Linked DNA regions of Homo sapiens: region 2 is linked to region 1. The links come from fine-mapping of genetic effects on plasma protein levels. Region 1 holds a variant in brackets. A gene starts in the other region. All regions are shown on their reverse strands.

Region 1 (9,112 bases):
AGTGAGCTGAGATGGCGCCACTGCACTCCAGCCTGGGTGACAGAGTGAGACTCCGTCTCAAGGAAAACAAACAAACAAACAAAAAAATTAGCCAGGTCTGGTGCCATGTACCTGAAAGCCTAGCTACTCTGGACTCTGAGGCTGGAAGATTGCTTGAGCCCAGGAGTTCAAAGCTGCAGTAAGCTGTGATTTTGCCACTACACTCCAGCCTGTATGATGGAGCAAGAGACCCTGTCTCAAAAATAAATAAATAAATAAATAAATAAAAGTGTAATGGATGCACAACTTTTCATTCACTTACTCTATTCTTTTTTTGTTTTTGTTTTTGTTCTGAAATGGCATCTCACTCTGTCGCCCAGGCTGGAGTGTAGTGGTGGGATCTTGGCTCACTGCAACCTCTGCCACCCAGGCTCAAGAGATCCTCCCAGCTCAGCCTCCCGAGTAGCTAGGACCACAGGTGCGTGCCACCACACCTGGCTAACTTTTTGTACTTTTGTAGAGATGGGGGTCTCATCATGTTGCCCAGGTTGGTCTCGAACTCCTGAGCTTAAGCAATCTGCCCACCTCGGCCTCCCAGAGTACTGGGATTACAGGCATGAGCCACGGCGCCTGGCCCGCTTACTATATTCTAACCTACTTAGTCATGTCCTTTATGTCTACAGCACTTTTTTTTTTTTTTCAGGCTCTTCAAGTTGGAGTGCAGTGGTATGAATCATAGCTCAACTGCAGCCTCAAACTCCTGGGCTCAAGCAATCCTCCCACCTCAGCCTCTGGAGTAGCTAGGACTACAGGCATGCACCACCACACTTGGCTAATTAAATTTAAAAAACAAAAAATTGTAGAGACAGAGTCTCACTATGTTGCCCAGACTGGTCTTGAACTTCTGGCCTCAAGTGATCCTCCTGCCTCAGCCTCCCAAAGTGCTGGATTATAGGCGTGAGCCACCACTCCCAGCCTATCTAACAGCATTTCATATTGTGATTTTTCCTCTGATGATAAGTGTCAGAGAGCAGCCAATTTCCCTTTTAAAATTACCTTAGTATCCAAGGGAAAGGAAACCACGTGCTATGCACAAAGTCTTACATATTAATGTTCATAACAGCATTGCTCAAAATAGCCAAAATTAGAAATAATCCAAGGGTGGGGCACCACGGCTCACGCCTGTAATCCCAGCACTTTGGGAGGCCGAGGTGGGCGGATCACAAGGTCAAGAGATCGAGACAAGCCTGGCCAACATGGAGAAACTCCGTCTCTACTAAAAATACAAAAATTAGCTGAGTGTGGTGGCATGCGCCTGTAGTACCAGCTACTCAGGAGGCTGAGGCAGGAGAATCGCTCAAACCTGGGAGGTGGAGCTTGCAGTTAGCCGAGATCGTGCCACTGCACTCCAGCCTGGTGACAGAGCAAGACTGTCTAAAAAACAAAAACAAAAGCAAAAACAAAAACCAAAAAAAAAGAAAGAAACAATCCAAATGCCCATCAACAGGAAAATGGTAAATAAAAATGTGGCATTTTCTTACAAAGGAATATTACTTAACAATAAAAATAGTTAAACTATTGATACATATAACACCATGGATGAATCTCAAAAACACTATGCTGAACAAAAGAAGCCAGATACAAAGGAGCTTATATACTGTACGGTTCTGTTCTAGAACAGCTCAAACAAATCTATAATTTTAGAAATCAGATCAGTGGTTGCCAAGGGCAAAAGAGGGCAATTTGACTGCAAAAGCATATGAGAGAACACTGAAGTGGATGACAACGATCCAGGTTGTCATCGTGGTGGCCATTATACACACACACGTATAGTTGTAAAAACTAATTGAACAGTAAACCTAAAATGTGTGCATTTTCTTTTATTTATTCAACCTCAAGAAAGCCGATGATTTAAAAACCCTCCTCCCAAACATGACAAATCCAAAAGCACTAAGGATTTTGAATGTCAGTTTGGCAGTGTACAAGTGAGTCTCCTTATCCCCATCCTTGTCAGAACAGAAATGACCCTTTTTTTTTCCTTTCTTTTTTGTGTTTTTGCCAGCTTGGTTTGTTTCTTGAATTTGCATTGCTCTAATTTGAGGCTTGAAACAATGATTGGAGTTATCAAGAGGGAAGAGCGCAGGTGAGAGAGTGGGTGTATCAGGGAGCTGGAAAGTCTGTGCAGCTGGAGCACATGATAAGTGGGAGTGGCCAGACTTTATGTTGAAGAGGTTGGCAGGAGATGGAGCCTGCAGGGCATGGAAGCCAGGCTGAGGGGTTCGCTAGACTTAGGAGGTGTAGGAGAGAAATGGAAAGATTTCAAAGGGGTTGGAAAGGCATAACCAGATTGGTTCTTCAGAAAGATCGCTCTGTCTGAATGGGAAGAATGGGGAGGGCTAGGGAAGGAGATTAAACCTGAGAAACCAGCTGGAGCTGATGCAGTGGTCCAGGGGTGAGATGATGGGGACAGACTCCAGATACCATTCATCTATCTAACATCTATCTATCTATCATCTATCTACCTATCTATCTATCTATCTATCTATCTATCATCTATCTACCTACCTATCATCTATCATCTATCTCTATCTATCTATCTATCTATCTATCTATCTAATCTATCTATCATCTATCTATCATCTATCTATCTATCTATCTATCTATCTATCTATCTATCATCTATCTATCTATCTATCTGAGACAAGGTTTCACTCTGTCGCCCAGGCTGGAGTGCAGTGGCACGATCTCAGTTCACTGCAGCCTCCGCCTCCCGAGTTCCAGCAATTCTCCTATCCAGCCTCCCTAGTAGCTGGGATTACAGGTGTCACTACCACACCTGGCTAATTTCTTTTGTATTTTTGGTACGGACAGGGTTTCGCCATGTTGGCCAGGCTGATCTTGAACTCCTGACCTCAAGTGATCCACCCGCCTCGGCCTTCCAAAGTGCTGGGATTTCAGGTGTAAGCCACCGTGCCCAGCCCAGATACCATGTATTTTGAGGAGAAGCTGAGCATTGTTGGGGACAGCACCACCATTAGACCTGGACTATTGGGGCCCAGGGATTTAGAGAGCCCCACATATCACACCCACCCACACACCCACCCACACACAACAGTTTATTAAATAACAGATAAGCACCTCTGTCCTTTGGGATCTGGTGCCTGGTACTGGCACAGTGGGACCCACATCACTGATTATTCTCTTTCACAACCAACACTGTTTAGGCCCCAGGAAACAATCTCTACATGTGGCACTCGACTCTGAAAACAACAGGTCAAATGTCCTGATACTTCGTGGATGATGCCACCGCAGACATAGGAGACAGACACTGCTTCAAGAGAGGATTTGAGTGAACTTGGAGGTAAGAAAAAAGACAAATTAACATTTTAACTCTTCCCTTTCAGCATAAATGCCAACAAAAAAACTCTTTGTTTTGCCAGAAACACTGAAAGTCTATTTTCTTGCAATGTGTGGTTAGAGAGATCCTCCTGAGTTAGAAATAAACAGTACATGCAACAGTTGCACATGGTTGCTGAGAAACATTTGGCAATATTGCATCATTATTACTCCTAAATGTGTGTGTCTGATGTCTGTAGATGGTGCCCACATACAGCCTGAATCTAGTTCTTTTTCTCTTTATTTTCTTGAGACAGAGTCTGGCTCTGTCACCCAGGTTGGAGTGCAGTGGCACAATCTTGGCTTACTGCAACCTCCATCTCCCAGGTTCAAGAAATTCTCCGGCCTCAGCCTCCTGAATAACTGGGATTACAGGCGCCTGCCACCACACCTGGCTAATTTTTGTATTTTTAGTACAGACGGGGTTTCATCATGTTGGCCAGGCTCGTCTCAAACTCCTGACCTCAAATGATCTGCCTGCCTCGACCTCCCAAAGTGCTGGGATTACAGTTGTGAGTCACTGCATCAGGACAATTGAATCTGGTTCTTGACATGGGCATGTAGAGGCTGCATGCTAGCCTCGTGAATAATTTTCAGTTGTACAAATCTTTTGGACATGATTTAATTAATTAATTAAATTTCTTTTTTTTTTTTTTTCGAGACAGAGTCTCGCTCTGTTGCCCAGGCTGGAGTGCAGTGGCACAATCTCAGCTCACTGCAAGCTCCACCTCCTGGGTTCACGCCATTCTCCTGCCTCAGCCTCCTGAGTAGCTGGGAATACAGGCGCCCGCCACCATGCCCGGCTAATATTTTTTTGTATTTTTTTAGTAGAGACAGGGTTTCACCGGGTTAGCCAGGATGGTCTCGATCTCCTGACCTTGTGATCCACCCGCCTCAGCCTCCCAAAGTGCTGGGATAATTAATTAAATTTCTAAAACTTAAATGTAAACATGTCAGCTTCATTTAAAATACTTTTGATTTATAACGTTCAGGCACTTAGGCCAATGGGGTCTGGGGTCTCCGTCTGCTCGAGTGTAGAGATCCCAGGCGCAGCCTGTGTAGGGGAAGGGTGAATAAGGAGAGCTACCACCATTCAAAGCGGAGCTGTGCACTGTGAATGCAGTACAGAGGCGCTTCCGAGTGCCTCTCCT[T/C]GGCAGGAGTAAGTGGTCTTCAGTGTCCTCACTGTCCCTCAGGCTGCCGCTTGGGGGTCTCACTCTCCACCTTAGACTATCCAAGTAATTCCTCCAAGCTCATCTGGCACCTACCCTACCACAGTACAATTTTCTCTGTCTCCTAACATTTCAGGTATGCATGAATGCCTCTAAAGACTGAGGCTTTAAGTAGTCCTTCTAGCTCGTCTGGCCCTATCCTCCATCTGGCCCTGGCAGGATGTCAAAAGAAGTTAGGCAGGAACAAAAGAGAGAGAAAAGGCCTCAGGGCAGGCAGTACAGGCTGGTGGTGAAGCGCAAGTTGGTGAACTTCTCTGTGCCTCAGTATCTCTACCTGTAAAATGAGAATAATAGTGGTACCTACTTCATTGGGTTGTTATGAAGATTAAATTGGTACATAGTTGTAATGCTTGGTTTTTTAAAGTTCTTAAAATTTTTTGGTAGGGATGGGAGGTCTCACTATGTTGCCCAGGCTGGTCTCGAACTCCCGGGCTCAAGTGATCCTCCCACTTCAGCCTCCCAAAGTGCTGGGTTTACAGGCATGAGCTACCACACCCATAAAATGCTTGTTAAATAAAATAAATTTGCTCCTAAGGGTCTTCTGATTATAATAACTATCGCTGTCAGTTTAACCATCCCCCAGACAAGCTGGGGTGAGGAGGGAAGAAAAATTTCTGCATTGCATATGTACTTCAGTGATTGCAAGCTACATCTCTCTTTTAAAGATATCAAAACATGAAAACGTGTCTATCCTAGGCTCAAGAAAATAAGACATTCCCCCCATTATATAGATGAGGAAAAAAGTGGCCCAGAGAGGCGAGGCAGTGTGGGAAACGTCACACAGCAGGTGAGCTGGAAGTCATCAGGGAAATGCACCTGTTTGAAACACTTCATTTCCTGAAAAAGTCACATTCCACCCTTCTTCATCAAGGCCAGAGCCAAGGTCTGTGTAAGACCAACCTGTGACCTGCTTCCACATGAGAATACATAGGCTGAGCAAATTGTCCTCATGGGGAACTCTGTGACTGGGCTGAGGAAAGACCCAAAAAGATTTTCTCAAGTTCAAATCCTGTTTTGTGATCTTGGGCAACTTAAGAAACCTCTTTGAACTTCAGTTTCCTCATCTGAAAAGCCAGGGTTACAACATGTGTCCCACGAGATTGTGTATGAGATGAAAATGTGGGATCACATGCACATGCGCATGAGATCGCACCGAGCATGCCACCTGGTGTGCCGTCCATGCACAAGAAATTGTAGCCATTATTCTTCTGAATGGTGCTATTCTTGGGTTGAACCATATGAAACTGGGTTTTGCAGGTCCAAAAGCATTGGATATTATTCTATTTCATACCGTTCACTCTACTATTATTGAACAATAGTCCTTTCTGTGGCTGGCAAGAAAGGCAGAGCATATCGGCCCCATTTTGCAGAGAGAGAAACTGAGGCCTAGAGAGAAAGAATGACCTACCCAGGGCCATGTCCCAGTCAGGAACTGGAATCTGCCTGCCAGCCTCTCTTTTTCTCGCTCTTCTTTTCCTCATTTTTCCAATCCTGGGCTGCCGGCCATTATGGGTTGTGACCATAGCTAGGGTTTGATTCATTGTGAACAGGGCAAACAGGCTGGCCTGGGCTTTCCCCTGGAGTTGGCCCAGCCTGGGAAGTCCACCTGACTGTTTCCTGACACTCAGTTGTGCAACAGGAGATTGGGAACTGTGGGTACTGCCAGTTTAGGAAAAGTTTCCTTCTGTCCCCAACAACCTCCTATCTGCCCCTGCTGGGAATGAGCTGGCCCAGCTCCAGCATCCTCACTGGCCCACCTGGGATTGGAGACCAGGCCGAGAGTCGTGAGTGTCACAGTTCTAACATGGCTCTTCTTGCTTTCCCCCTCTGGCCCTTCTGGCTGGCTTTTTCAATCTCTACCCATGTCTTCCAGGCCTAGCAGAAACTGCTGATGCCTCCAGAGCTCTGAGTGCAGTGCAGACCTCTCTCCTTTCCTCGCAGCGCAGGCAGCTGCCTCCTGGATGGCTCTGCTCCAGGGCCCCATGGCAGTCAAACCCAACTTGCCAACTCAGACCTCTGCTCATCTGTGCAAACCTGTGACTTGTCATGTTCCCAGCTCCATACCGCAGGCTTCCTCACCCTTTCCTGCAGCCCCACATGGGAACACTTACCGTTCCCAAATGCAAAGTGCTACCTTTACCTCTGGGCCTTGGCAGGCACTGTTCCCTCTACCCCAAGTGCCCTTCCCCATCTGGCTCACTTCTATTCCTTCTCTTTCAACCTCAGCTTGAGGAGTGTGATGGTTAATTTTATGTATCACCTTGACTGGGCCACAGGGTGCCCAGATATTTGGCCAAACACTATTCTGGGTGTGTCTGTGAAGGTGTTTTTGGATGGGATTAACATTTGGGTAATCCCATGGGAGACTGAGTAAAGCAGATGGCCCTCCCCAATGTGGCTGGGCTTCATCCAATCAGTTGAAGGCCTGAATAGAACAAACAGGCTGAGTACGAGCGAATTCCTTCTGCCTGACTGCCTTCAAGCTGGGACAGGTTTTTTCCCTGCCTTTGGACTTGAACTGAACCGTTGGGTTTTCCTGGGTCTCAAAGCTGCCAGCAGCCAATCTTAAGATTTGTCAGCTTCCATCATTGCATGAGCCAATTTCATATAATAAATCCCTTAATATGGAGTGCAGTGGCGCCATCTCAGCTCACTGCAAGCTCCGCCTCCCAGGTTCACACCATTCTCCTGCCTCAGCCTCCTGGGTAGCTGGGACTACAGGCACCCGCCACCACACCCAGCTAATTTTTTTTCTATTTTTAGTAGAGGCGGGGTTTCACTGTGTTAGCCAGGATGGTCTCGATCTCCTGACCTCGTGATCCGCCCACCTCGGCCTCCCAAAGTGCTGGGATTACAGGCGTGAGCCACCGCGCCCGGCTGCAAGTTTTTAAAATATAAAATCCTGGGTATAAACTCAACTGTTAGTGATGTGCTCTTTCTCCTCAATGAGAATGGCAGAAAAGTTCTGATTATTCATTGTCCCAGGGAAGGAGGAATAAGCTGAGGAAGAAAGAGATCTGAAACAAGGGTCAGGAAATGTGGGCTCCAGGCCAGGATACTCAGATACGTATAAATTTCAGATAAATAACAAATAAAAAGATTTCTAGCATAAGCATTTCCTCAAAATTGCATGGAGCATACTTGTACTAAAAAATAGCTATTGTTTATCTGAAATTCAAATTGATCTGGGCATCCTATAGTTTTATTTTTTAAGTCTGGCAACGCCATCTCCCAGACTCACACCCACTCACTTCTTCCGTGGCAGGTACTATTGTGACTTCTCTCAAGAATGTGACAGGCAGGGATCACTCCTTTTGAAGCATTATTCACAATAGCCAAAGGTAGAAACAGCCCAAATGTCCACCAGTTTGGCTCAAATATCCATCAGCTTATGAGTAGGTAAACAAAATGTGGTTTATCCATGCAATGGAGTACATTCAACCATAAAAAGAATGAAGTACTGATACACGTTACGACACAGATGAATCTTGAAAACATCACGCTGAGTGAAAGAGGCCGGGGTCACAAAAGGCCACATACTGTATGATTCCACTTGTATTAGGTCGGTGCCAAAGTAATTGCGGTTTTTGCCATTTAGAAGTAATGACAAAAACCGCAATTACTTTGGCACCAATGTAATATAAAATGTCTGGAGTAGGCAGAGCCGTGGACACAGAAAGCAGGCTGGTGATTTTCCAGGGGTTGGGGGAGGGTGGGACTGCTAAAATGGGTACAGGTTTCCTTTAGGGGTGATGAAAATAATACGAAATTAGATCATGGTAACGTTGCACACCATTCTGAATGTACTATCACCAGTGGCAAATTTTATGTTATGTGTAATTAACCACAATAATAATAAAAACAAATTGCTCATGTTAACCTCAGTGTACCTCCTCCCTGTGTGTTAGGAGTTGAATCGTGTCCCCCCAAAAGATATGTCCTAACCCCCTGCACCAGTGAATGTGACCTCATTTGGAGATAAGGCCTTTGCAGATGAAAGTAAGTTAAGGTGGGGTCATGAGTGTGGGCTCTAATCCAATATGACTGGGGTCCTCATAAAGAGAAGATGGAGCAGAGAGACACATCAGAACACGTGTCACCACAGGGACACAGACCGAAGTGCTGCAGCTGCAAGCCAAGGAATGACTGGGGCTACCAGGAGCGGGAAGAGGCAAGGAAAGATCCTCCCCTTGAGGCTTTGGAGGGAGTGTGGCCCTGCCAACACTGCCTGTGTGAACTTCTGGCCTCCAGAACTGCGAGAGAGACGGTTCTGTGTTGTTTGCAGCCACCAAGTTTGTGGTATTTGTTACAGCGTAAGGAGGACATCCTCTGAGCATCTCCTCCCACTCCCTATCCCAGCCCAGCCAGAAACTGCCCCCCTGAGCTTTGAGAAGCAGCACGGGACCACAGGCGTGTCATTCCATTGCCTCAGTTTTAAATATTTATTTAAAATCCAGAGGGGAAAAGGAGAAACGGAACCCATTGGGGTTTTAATACACTGACATGTG
Region 2 (9,046 bases), not on the chromosome of region 1:
CTCACATTTGGCTCAGAATAAATCTCTTCAAATATTTTACAGAGTTTGGCTTCTTTATCAACACTTTCCTCAGGCACTTTGGGGGCTGTGGAGGGAAATGCCCATTTCCCCCCTCCCCCCAGTTCTCTATGAGGTACAGCATGAGGCACCTGCTCTAGACCCATGCACCCTTCTCTGGAGAAGTAGACACATCCCACCCAATCAGCTCACCAGCCTCCTCACATGCTCACGCTGGCTCAGCCTGGCCACCCAAGCCCCCTTCCTTGAATTCTCCCTCCCTAGGGTGCTTTCAGCCCACTGTTCTGTGCTTTGGCTCAAGCTGTGCCCCTTCAGCCTGGCCCCACTCGTCTTTAAGGTCTCTGCTCTTTGTTATGTGGGGATTGGTGATGCTGTTTCAATTACAAACTATAATAGTACAATTTATGAAGTGCCAGGACACACATACATGCCAACTTTCAAGAAATAGTATTTATTAGTATTTCCTAAAATACAGTACTTAGTACAAAGTTTTCTATTTGATTCTACTCTTTTAAAAAAAAATACTGAGTTGATTTCATGACTGGCAAATGAGTCTTGATCTGCTGGTTAAAATGCCCTGGATCCGAGAGTCTGTGTCCCTTGTAGAGTGTGTGTCTGTGGGCTGTGCTGTCCACATCTCTCTGCCTGTGTCTCCTTTGTCTCTCACCCACTCCTCCTCCTCTTTTCATTTTGACAGCCTCAGTTTCTTTTCTTGGCCCTCTGTAGTCTTTTTCTGTGCTTTTTTTCCACTGAAAAATTCAATGTCTCACTACAATAAAGATAACTCTTCCAACTGATCTCTCTAGCACTGACTTTTGTCCTGAGCTCCATGTTTTCAGCTCTCTCACTATGACAGATGCCTTCCCTCATCTCAGAACTCCAAACTCTCCATGTCCAAAATTTAAAACAAGACTGCAGAATCAAGCAATCTTGAGCTTCAAAAACACCTTAGTCACTTATTATTTATTATTGGCAGAAGGGAATTATAATATCTACTCTTAGAGCTGTTTTAAAGATTGTATAAACTCCTAGTGTTGAGTTTGGTATACAGAAGGTGCTTAGTAAATCTTGGGTTCATTCCTACCTCCAGTTACTTTACCTTCCAAATTCCCCATTTCTTTTAGTGACACCGACATTATCCCACCAACGCTAGACTTAGATTTATTATTTCTTGACCCTGCCCCATTACTCTGCGTGTCTGCTCCACTCCCACACACTTGCTCTGAAATGCAGCCCACACGTGGCTCCCTGCAACCTGCAGCCTCATGTCACCTCCACTCCACAAAAGGCACTGAGGAAGCTGAGGGGTGGGGAATGCCCATCTCCCTTGGGGCCTCTGGCTCTCATGTTGGGATGACCACAGCCTCAGACAAGTTATCCAAGCCTGGCTTAGTGTTTCCCAAACTGGGACTCGCGGGCCTCCTGGGCTCCAGTTGGGGTCTGAAGACCGCGTTCTGCCTTGCCCTCGGTGTTCTGACGCACCTCCATGTGAACACCTCTCTTGGTACCTTCTCTCTTCCCCTTGGTCTCCTTCCTTGTGGCCAGATGGACATATGCCTGCTTTTTTCTCTGCTACCCTAGAGCCACAGTGATGGTTCACAGACTTGCCACAAGGATTGGTCCCCACTCAACTGGAGCCTGACGCCCTCACTGTCTCTGGTCGATCCCTTGCGCCTCCTCTGACCTCTTAGAGGAACTCGCTGTTCTGTGATAGCGGCCACAGCTCTGTTCCCCTTGGCATCCACCCCCGAGCATCCCCAGGCTGATTGACCAGTAAGAAGTCACCTTTCCTTTGCAGCCCCTGTCCAGTTCCCGCCTTTTCCCATCTCCCTGAAGCCTGCTCAGCTCTCCCCAGCTCATGGGGGTAGGACACGGCCTATAAGGTTGAGCTGGACTGTGTGAGGAAGAGGGTACAGGTGGCAGGCACGGGGTGGAAAGGGTGATGCAAGGAAGTCAAGGACTACCCAGAATCTGCCTCTAGTGGTCTTAGAACAGAGCCCAGGGTCTTCCCATGGCCAGGCCTCCCAGGCCTCACCACCTTCAACTCTGCCCTCATTCACCTCTCTCTGCCACACTGGGCTCTGCGCTGACCCTGGCTGAGCCCAACACTCACACCCCAGGACTTTTGCACCAGTCACCTCCCTGTCTGGAACATTCTTTCCACAGATACCCAAGTGGCTCAGGCCCAGCGCCCTCCGAGACACCCTCCCTGACCACGCCCTCTGACGTTGCCCCCACTCGTGTCTCTTTCATCCCCTTACACTGTGCTATTTGTCTTCTAGCACCCAACCCCTCTCTGACATTACATGCTGACAGGCTTATCCTTCCCTCCGCTGGAAAAAGACTTGACGTGTTTGGTCACAGCTGTATGCCCGTGCCTAGCACGGCCGGAACTTAACCAATATGTGTTGAGGGAATGAAGGAAAGATGGCGTGCCTGGCTCAGCCCTCTGGACTGAATCTGGGCGCTTCTGCTATCTGTTATGGCTGAGTCGCATCAACGCTTCAGTCAGACTGAGCAGGCCGGGTCTGGGCCACGTGGCCACACTTTCTGATGTGAGTAAAATGGGATTTTGGCAAAACGAAATTAAAACAAGGTTTTTAGGCACTTGTCTCAAGAAATTAATGGAACACTCTAGAACTCTGATATGGAGCATCCAGATTGGTAGACATTTGTCGTGTGGTTTGTTTCTTCAGAAGCTGTTGGGAGCATTGCAATCCTCGAGCACACAGTTGTGTTTGTTGTTTTGGCAACATCAGTGAATTCCACAGTCAGCAACTGCATTTGAGCAAGTTTTACCAGCAAGCAAAATTTTCAGTCAGTAAGGTCCAAACTCATGAAGAATGGGTTTAAACTTGTTGAATGTAAAGATTGAAACTGAAGCCACGTAGCTTTAATGATTGCCAGTACAACAGCAGTAGTTTAAAGGCTGGCACTGCAGGTGCTCTGCGTATTCTGATTTTATTAAAATAAAAAGTTGGATTGCAGAAAACACTCACAGGTGGCAGGACAGGGCTGAATAATGTCCCTCCAAATTCATGTCTTTCCCAGAACCTCAGAACCTGACCTTAATTGGAAATAGAACTTTTGTGATGTATTTAGTTAGGAAGACATTTTATGGGAGTAGAGTGAGCCCTAAATCCAATGACTGGTGTCCTTCTGAGAGAAAAGAAGACAGAAAAACAGCCATGGTGAGAACCCCATGCGATGATGGAGGCAGCGATGGGAGCAATGCTCCCACAAGCCATGGGCTGTGAGGCCGCTGGCACCCCGAGGCCAGGAAACAGGCCTAGAGCAGACTCTCTCCCAGCCTCTGGAGGAACCAGCCCCGCTGACGCCTTGATTTTGAACTTCCAGCCTCCAGAGCTGTGGGAGAAATGTTTCTGTTGCTTTAAGCTACTTGGTCCATTGTCCTTTCTTGTAGCAGTACCAGCAAAGGAATGCTGAGGTCCCACCGCCCCAGAAGAACTTCCGTGACTGCCAGGACAGCTGTGCTCGTTTAAAGGCTAGACTGCAGATGCTGTGCGCATTCTGATTTTATTAAAATCAAAAGTGTGCACAGCAGGGTCCTGAGTGGGACCTTCTGGGACCTGTGTTCAGCCCCACCCACCCCACAGTGCAGCTGCCGAGGCCTCTGAGGCAGAGTAGGGGAGAGAGATGGCCTGGCCCTGGCTCTCCGGGGCTGGCCATGTCCACCCAGGGTCCAGGCCGGCCCCCGGGGACACCACAGGCCATGGTTATGAGCCAGGCCCGCATCACACAGCTAAGGGTGCCAATACCCTGTGGACCCAGAGGTCCGCGAGGTGGGCGCCTGCATTTCCCATTGGCAGGAAGGGAAGCTGGCGCTCCACCAGGACTCTGCATAACTCCCCTAGTTTCCTCCTGTGGGTCTGGGTGGGCTCCTGGCCTGTCTTCTCATCCCCACCCTCTGCTTCTTCCCAGGAAGAGGAGTCCTGCCAACTTCCATTCCCAATAAGCCAGAGCAGCTTCCAGAGTCCCGGGCCGGGCTTAGGGCCTCGGGAGCCCCGGGCCGGGCTTAGGGCCTCAGGATCCTAGAGCATTCCGGCTGCAGAATTTTCTACCAATTCGCGGAAGCATCTGTCTGTTTGCAGAGTAGCTTTGCTGTCGATGATGATGGCATGGGTCCTTCCAGGGCCTTGTTCCACCCACGCTGATCTCATCCCACCACAAGCATCACAGTGGGCTCCTGCAGGGGGCAGTGTGGCCTGAGGGGGAGGAAGAAGGCTGGGCGAGTTGGAGCCACACAGTACCCCATGAAGACGGGAGTCCCGTTCCGCGTGGGAGACAGGAAGATGTGGCTCAGGGGACAGAGGCTGGGGAGGGCAGGGGGTTGAGGGTGGGATGGAGAAGACCCCCGTGTGATGTGACTGGAGCTCCAAGTCACCAGGCGGAGGGGCCGTTTAGGTCAGTGATGCACTGAGGATCCACTCAGCCTTCCCAGGGGTCTCCCCTTTCCACCCCACGAGGGTCTCCCCCTGCTCCGTCTCTCCCTCACACATTCCCTTCCCAGGCCTGGGTCCCCTTGGTGCCCCTGCCTGTCCACTTTGTCCAGGATGCAAACAAGTCTAGGGTCCCTGTCTCTCGTGTCCCCACCAGAGGGGCCTCCTCTTCCTCCGCTGTCCCCAGGCTTGCCTGGCTTCTGTCCTGTCTGGGCCTCTGCTTTTGGACAGACCCGGGGGTCCTGGACAGCCCTGCTGCCCCCACCTGTCCAGCTGTGCATTAGGCAGCTCCTTCCCCGACGGAGCCAGTCCGAGAGTGGTGGCACTGGCTCGGCTCAGCCTCCTCCTCCCTGGGAGCTCCTCTGCTGTGCCCCTCGTCCTGTGCCTCCCTGTGGTGGCAGATGGCTAACTGTCCTGTCTCTGCCTGCCCCAACCCCTCCCTCTCTCTCTGTCTCCGTCTTTCTACCTCTGTCTCTGCCTCTTGGCCTCCCATCTCACTGTGTCTCCGTTTCTCCTTCCCTCTCCCTTTCTCTCTCTGACTCTGTCCTTGTGTTTTTGTCTCTGTGACCTCTGATCCGCCCGTCTGACTCTCAGCCCCAGGGAGCCACAGCTGGCCTTGAGGATGCCGTTGGCTGGAAAGGCCAAGCCCAGCCATCCGAGCCCAGCCTCTGGCAGCACTCAAGGCACCCACCGTCCAGGCTGCAGAGATGAGAGGGTTTCCCCAACTGCCGCCCCTCCCTGCTCCCTGGCGCTGCTTTTGGGTCTGAAGGGCGAGGGGCACTTACGACTTTCCCCGAGCAGCAGGAGGCCAGCCAGGGAGGCACTGAGCAGGACGAGGTGCAGTGGGCGCCCCATGGTGTGGCCGAGTACTGTGTCCCTGTCCTCACTGGGACAGGCTGCTGGAGCAAAGTCCACGCCCCAGCTGGGATGGCTGTTGTCTGGCTGCTTATCACTTGGCTTAGGCCTCCTGATTGGAGCCGAGACCTGCTGGCGAGGCAGGGGAGTGACCACGCTGGGAACACATCCACTCTGGCCCCACCTTCCCCAGGCAGAGCTGGGCGGCCAGAGAGGCCCCGCAGAACCTCATCCTCATCAGTCACCAGGGCCGCGGGTGTGGGGACTTTCTGTTCTAAGAATAAAAACATCATTTCGTGCTCATTTTGTAGTTTCCAGATGTTTACATTTAACTCTCAGTCCTCACATACAAATATCATTTTCCCCATCATTTTTCCAGAAGAGAAAACTAAGTTTAGAGAGCGCAGAAGCCTGAGCCGAGGCCGCTGGCAGTGAGCGTGGGATCTGAGCCCAGGACTTCTGCCCCAAGGCCCTGCTTGTTTCTGGGCGGGCCCTTCCGCTCACAGCCACTCTCTGGGTGGTATCAGGTGGTCTCATGTCACGGGGGGGGCTTGGCATCTGCACCATGGCCTCCCACAGGCCAGGCTGGCACCTGCCCCACCCACCCCCAAACCTTCTGTGCCCGCATGGCCCCAAAACGTACTTCTGTGGGGAGTGACCTTCCCGTGACCATCTGGAGGGACAGGCTGTGTCTGAAGCCCCTCCTGACCTGCCCACCACTGGCCACACTGTTCCGAGGCTGAGAGGGCTTCTGGGCTCGTTCTCCAGTGCAGAAACCTCCCATCACAAGGTCCTGAGTGTCTCTGCTCAATGGCTGTGGGAGTCACTGGGAGGTGCAGCCGGGCTTTTTGCCTCTGGGGTCTCTGGAATAAATGGTCTAAAGCTTGGCCAGTGTGGCGATCACTGCCTGCTATGCCGTAGTGGCCGGGGAGCAATGCCCCTAACACCCACAGCACTGGCCACTGCCTCATGGTGCATCTGCCTTGATGGGTCGCCCTGTCTCGCAGCCACCTGCACATGAGCCTGGTGTGCACACATTGTGCGTCATTGTGCCTGGCACACAGGAGGCACTCACTGAGCCCCACCCGACTGCACAAACTGATGATGCTGGATGCCAACGCCAGGCTGGCCTCCCACGGCGGGCACCACGCACAGCCTGGTCCTCTGAGAAGGGCCTTCCTGGTGGCACCAGATGTCTGACTCCTGCCTCTCCTGGTCTCCACCCTCTGACATCGCCTCTAGGCATGTTTGTATGGAGAGACCAATGCGGTGTGTGCACCAACAGCAGGATGCTCATGGCAGACACGCAGTCTTTGTCATCAATGCTGGGTGGCGATGCTGGCTTTGGTGGCCCAAGCCTGCCGCCTCATCCCACCCTGTCCCAGGCCCATGGCCAGTGGCCTCCCCGTATTCTATCTCGCCACTCACAGAAAGCTGGAGCTGAGCCGTGGCAGGTGGCACGTCCCATATGAAACATGTAGCCTTTGGGGGCGCCCAGGCCCTTCAGCGAAGCCTCTGGGGAGTCCCGGGCCCCCTCCTCCGGCAGCACCATGAGGTGGGCGCCTGCATTTCCCATTGGCAGGAAGGGAGGCTGGCGCTCCACCAGGACCCCGCATGACTCCCCTAGTTTCCTCCTGTGGGTCTGGGTGGGCTCCTGAACTGTCCTCTCATCCCCACCCTCCGCTTCTTCCCAGGAAGAGTCCTGCCAACTTCCACTCCCAAGAAGTCAGAGTGGCTTCCAGAACCCTGGGCTGGGCTTAGGCCCTCAGGAGCCCCGGGCATTCTGGTTGCAGAATTTTCTACCAATTCACTGAAGCATCTGTCTGCAGAGTGGCTTTGCTGTCGATGACCATGGCATGGGCCCTTCCAGGGCCTTGTTCCATCCATGCTGATCTCATCCCACCATAAGCATCACGGTGGGCTCCTGTTTTACACATGAGGAAACTGAGGCATGGTCACTCGGACAAAAGAGAAAGCAGAGCCAGCTCTGACCTGGATCAGGGCCCGCCACTGGCTCCCGTCCCGTTTAGGGGGCATTAGGAACCGGGGTCTGGCCAGGGTCAGCAAGCATCTTCAGCAGAGGTCCTGACACTAACCATGCTGGGCTTGGCGGGTCAGCTGGTCTGTCCGGCTGGACGTCTCTGCCACGGCCACTCCATGGACACTAATATGGGTGTGTTCCCATAAAACTTTATTTACAAGAGCAGGGTGCCTTGGAAGCAGCCCACGGCTGTAGTTCATAGACCCTGTCTGCTCTGAAGTAGATGATGCCTGAGTGCCCCCGAGGTGGGTTGCTGGTGCCTGCCTTGCTGCTGTGAGTGCCAATGGTGCCCACCTTGCTGCTGTGAGTGCCAGTGGTGCCCAGGACGGCCCTGCAGGGATGGCATCGAGTCCACTCTCTGAGCCGTGCTTGCCGGAGTCTGAGTGGGGGCACTGTTTGTCACCTCCCCATTTCTCTGTTCATGTGTTTCTCATTCTTCTTCCACCACCCTGGGGACTCAGCAAGAGTGCAGCTTGCCAGGTCCTCCCACTGCAGCCAGGGCCTGGGAACTTGCATTTAGTGATGCGTGTGTCCCTGACTCTTGAGCAGGTGCTCCCAGGGTCTCTGTGAAATATCATTGACAAGGGCTGTGGCAGGGAGAGAACATCCAATTCCACAGGATCCTGGGAGCTACAGCCTCAAACATCTATCAAACAGCTTTTGTTTTTAAAAAATAGCTTCCATGTGAGGGTTCATTTCAGTGATGTTGAAAATTGTGAAAGAAAAGAGCATCTCAGAGGATGAGCACCGGGGGCTCCAAAAATGAATCATGGGCAACCCAGTGGGTGGCAGGCACCACAGGTGTGCGGAGGAGACGCAGCCGTTTATTGTGAAGCTGGGAAGCAGGTGGGGAATAGTCTGTGCAGCCCGGCACCCAGCGAAGGGAGAAATACATTTGGGGGAGAGTTTGGGGGCATTCGCCACCATGCATGGTGATGCTTCTGAATTGTCTGAAGTGAAGATGATAATGGATAAGAACCAGAAAAGTGAGAGCTAAACAACCGCCTTCAGAGGACAGCACACATGGAGTCAGCATCGGTGTGTGTGCATCTGTGTGTGCATCTGTGTGTGTACATCGGTGTGTGTGCGCATTGGTGTGTGTGTGCTCATCCATGTGTGTGCATATCTGTGTGTGCGCACATCGGTGTGTGCATATCTCTGTGCATCCGTGTGCACTGATGTGTGCGTGCATTGGCATGTGCGTGCATCCATGTGTATATCTGTGTGTGCATCTGTGTGTGCATATCTCTATGTGCGTGTGCATCGGTGTGTTTGCGTATCTCTGTGTGACCATCTGTGTGTGCATCCGTGTGTGTGCATATCTCTGTGTGTGTGCATTGGCGTGTGTGTGTGTGCATCCATGTGTGTTCATGCCTCTACTGTCTCCAGCAATGAAGGCAGAGCAGCAGCCTGAGGCCAGCAGATCACGTGCAGGTGGGCTTGGCTGAAGGGAGGTAAGGAGGCTCAGCTGGGCTGTCTGCCTCCAGGACAACCTTGGCACTCCCCTGCCCCTCTGTCCAGCGCCTGTCTGCCTCTGCCTCTCATCTTTTCTATTCCATCTCTGTGTCTCTATTAGTCTCTTTGAATCTTGGAGTCTCTTTGAGTCTCTCTCCATGTCCTCAGAGTCTCTCCCTCAGTCTCTCTCTGTCTCTGTCTCTCTCTGTTTCTGTCT

Alleles and levels. Alleles are on the strand shown, and positions count from the first base shown. The strength of an association depends on the size of the effect and on how common the allele is.
For the plasma level of the protein whose gene starts at base 5,390 in region 2, T is the high allele of the variant in region 1 and C is the other (weak association).

Evidence for each region. PIP is the chance, under the fine-mapping model, that this variant and not a neighbour inherited with it causes the effect. The UK Biobank Pharma Proteomics Project read protein levels with antibody pairs (Olink). The fine-mapping took linkage between variants from a reference panel, not from the people measured, so its PIPs are less certain.
Region 2: F10 starts here. The variant in region 1 is fine-mapped to the plasma level of the F10 protein (UK Biobank, PIP above 0.99).

What each region holds. Positions count from the first base shown.
Region 1 is chr9:114,312,422-114,321,533 of GRCh38, reverse strand. It overlaps LOC105376224 (a long non-coding RNA gene), which reads left to right and starts at 3,091. Exons shown (of 3, transcript XR_930255.3): 1 at 3,091-3,340. It overlaps COL27A1 (collagen type XXVII alpha 1 chain), which reads right to left. Exons shown (of 61, transcript NM_032888.4): 61 at 9,023-9,112. RefSeq lists an enhancer at 3,371-3,665. The variant T/C (reference allele first, on the strand shown) is at 4,527.
Region 2 is chr13:113,119,143-113,128,188 of GRCh38, reverse strand. F10 (coagulation factor X) reads right to left here and starts at 5,390. Exons shown (of 8, transcript NM_000504.4): 1 at 5,264-5,390. The coding sequence starts at 5,333. It overlaps F7 (coagulation factor VII), which reads right to left. Exons shown (of 8, transcript NM_019616.4): 8 at 7,504-9,046. F10-AS1 (F10 antisense RNA 1) reads left to right here. Exons shown (of 3, transcript NR_126424.1): 3 at 1-34.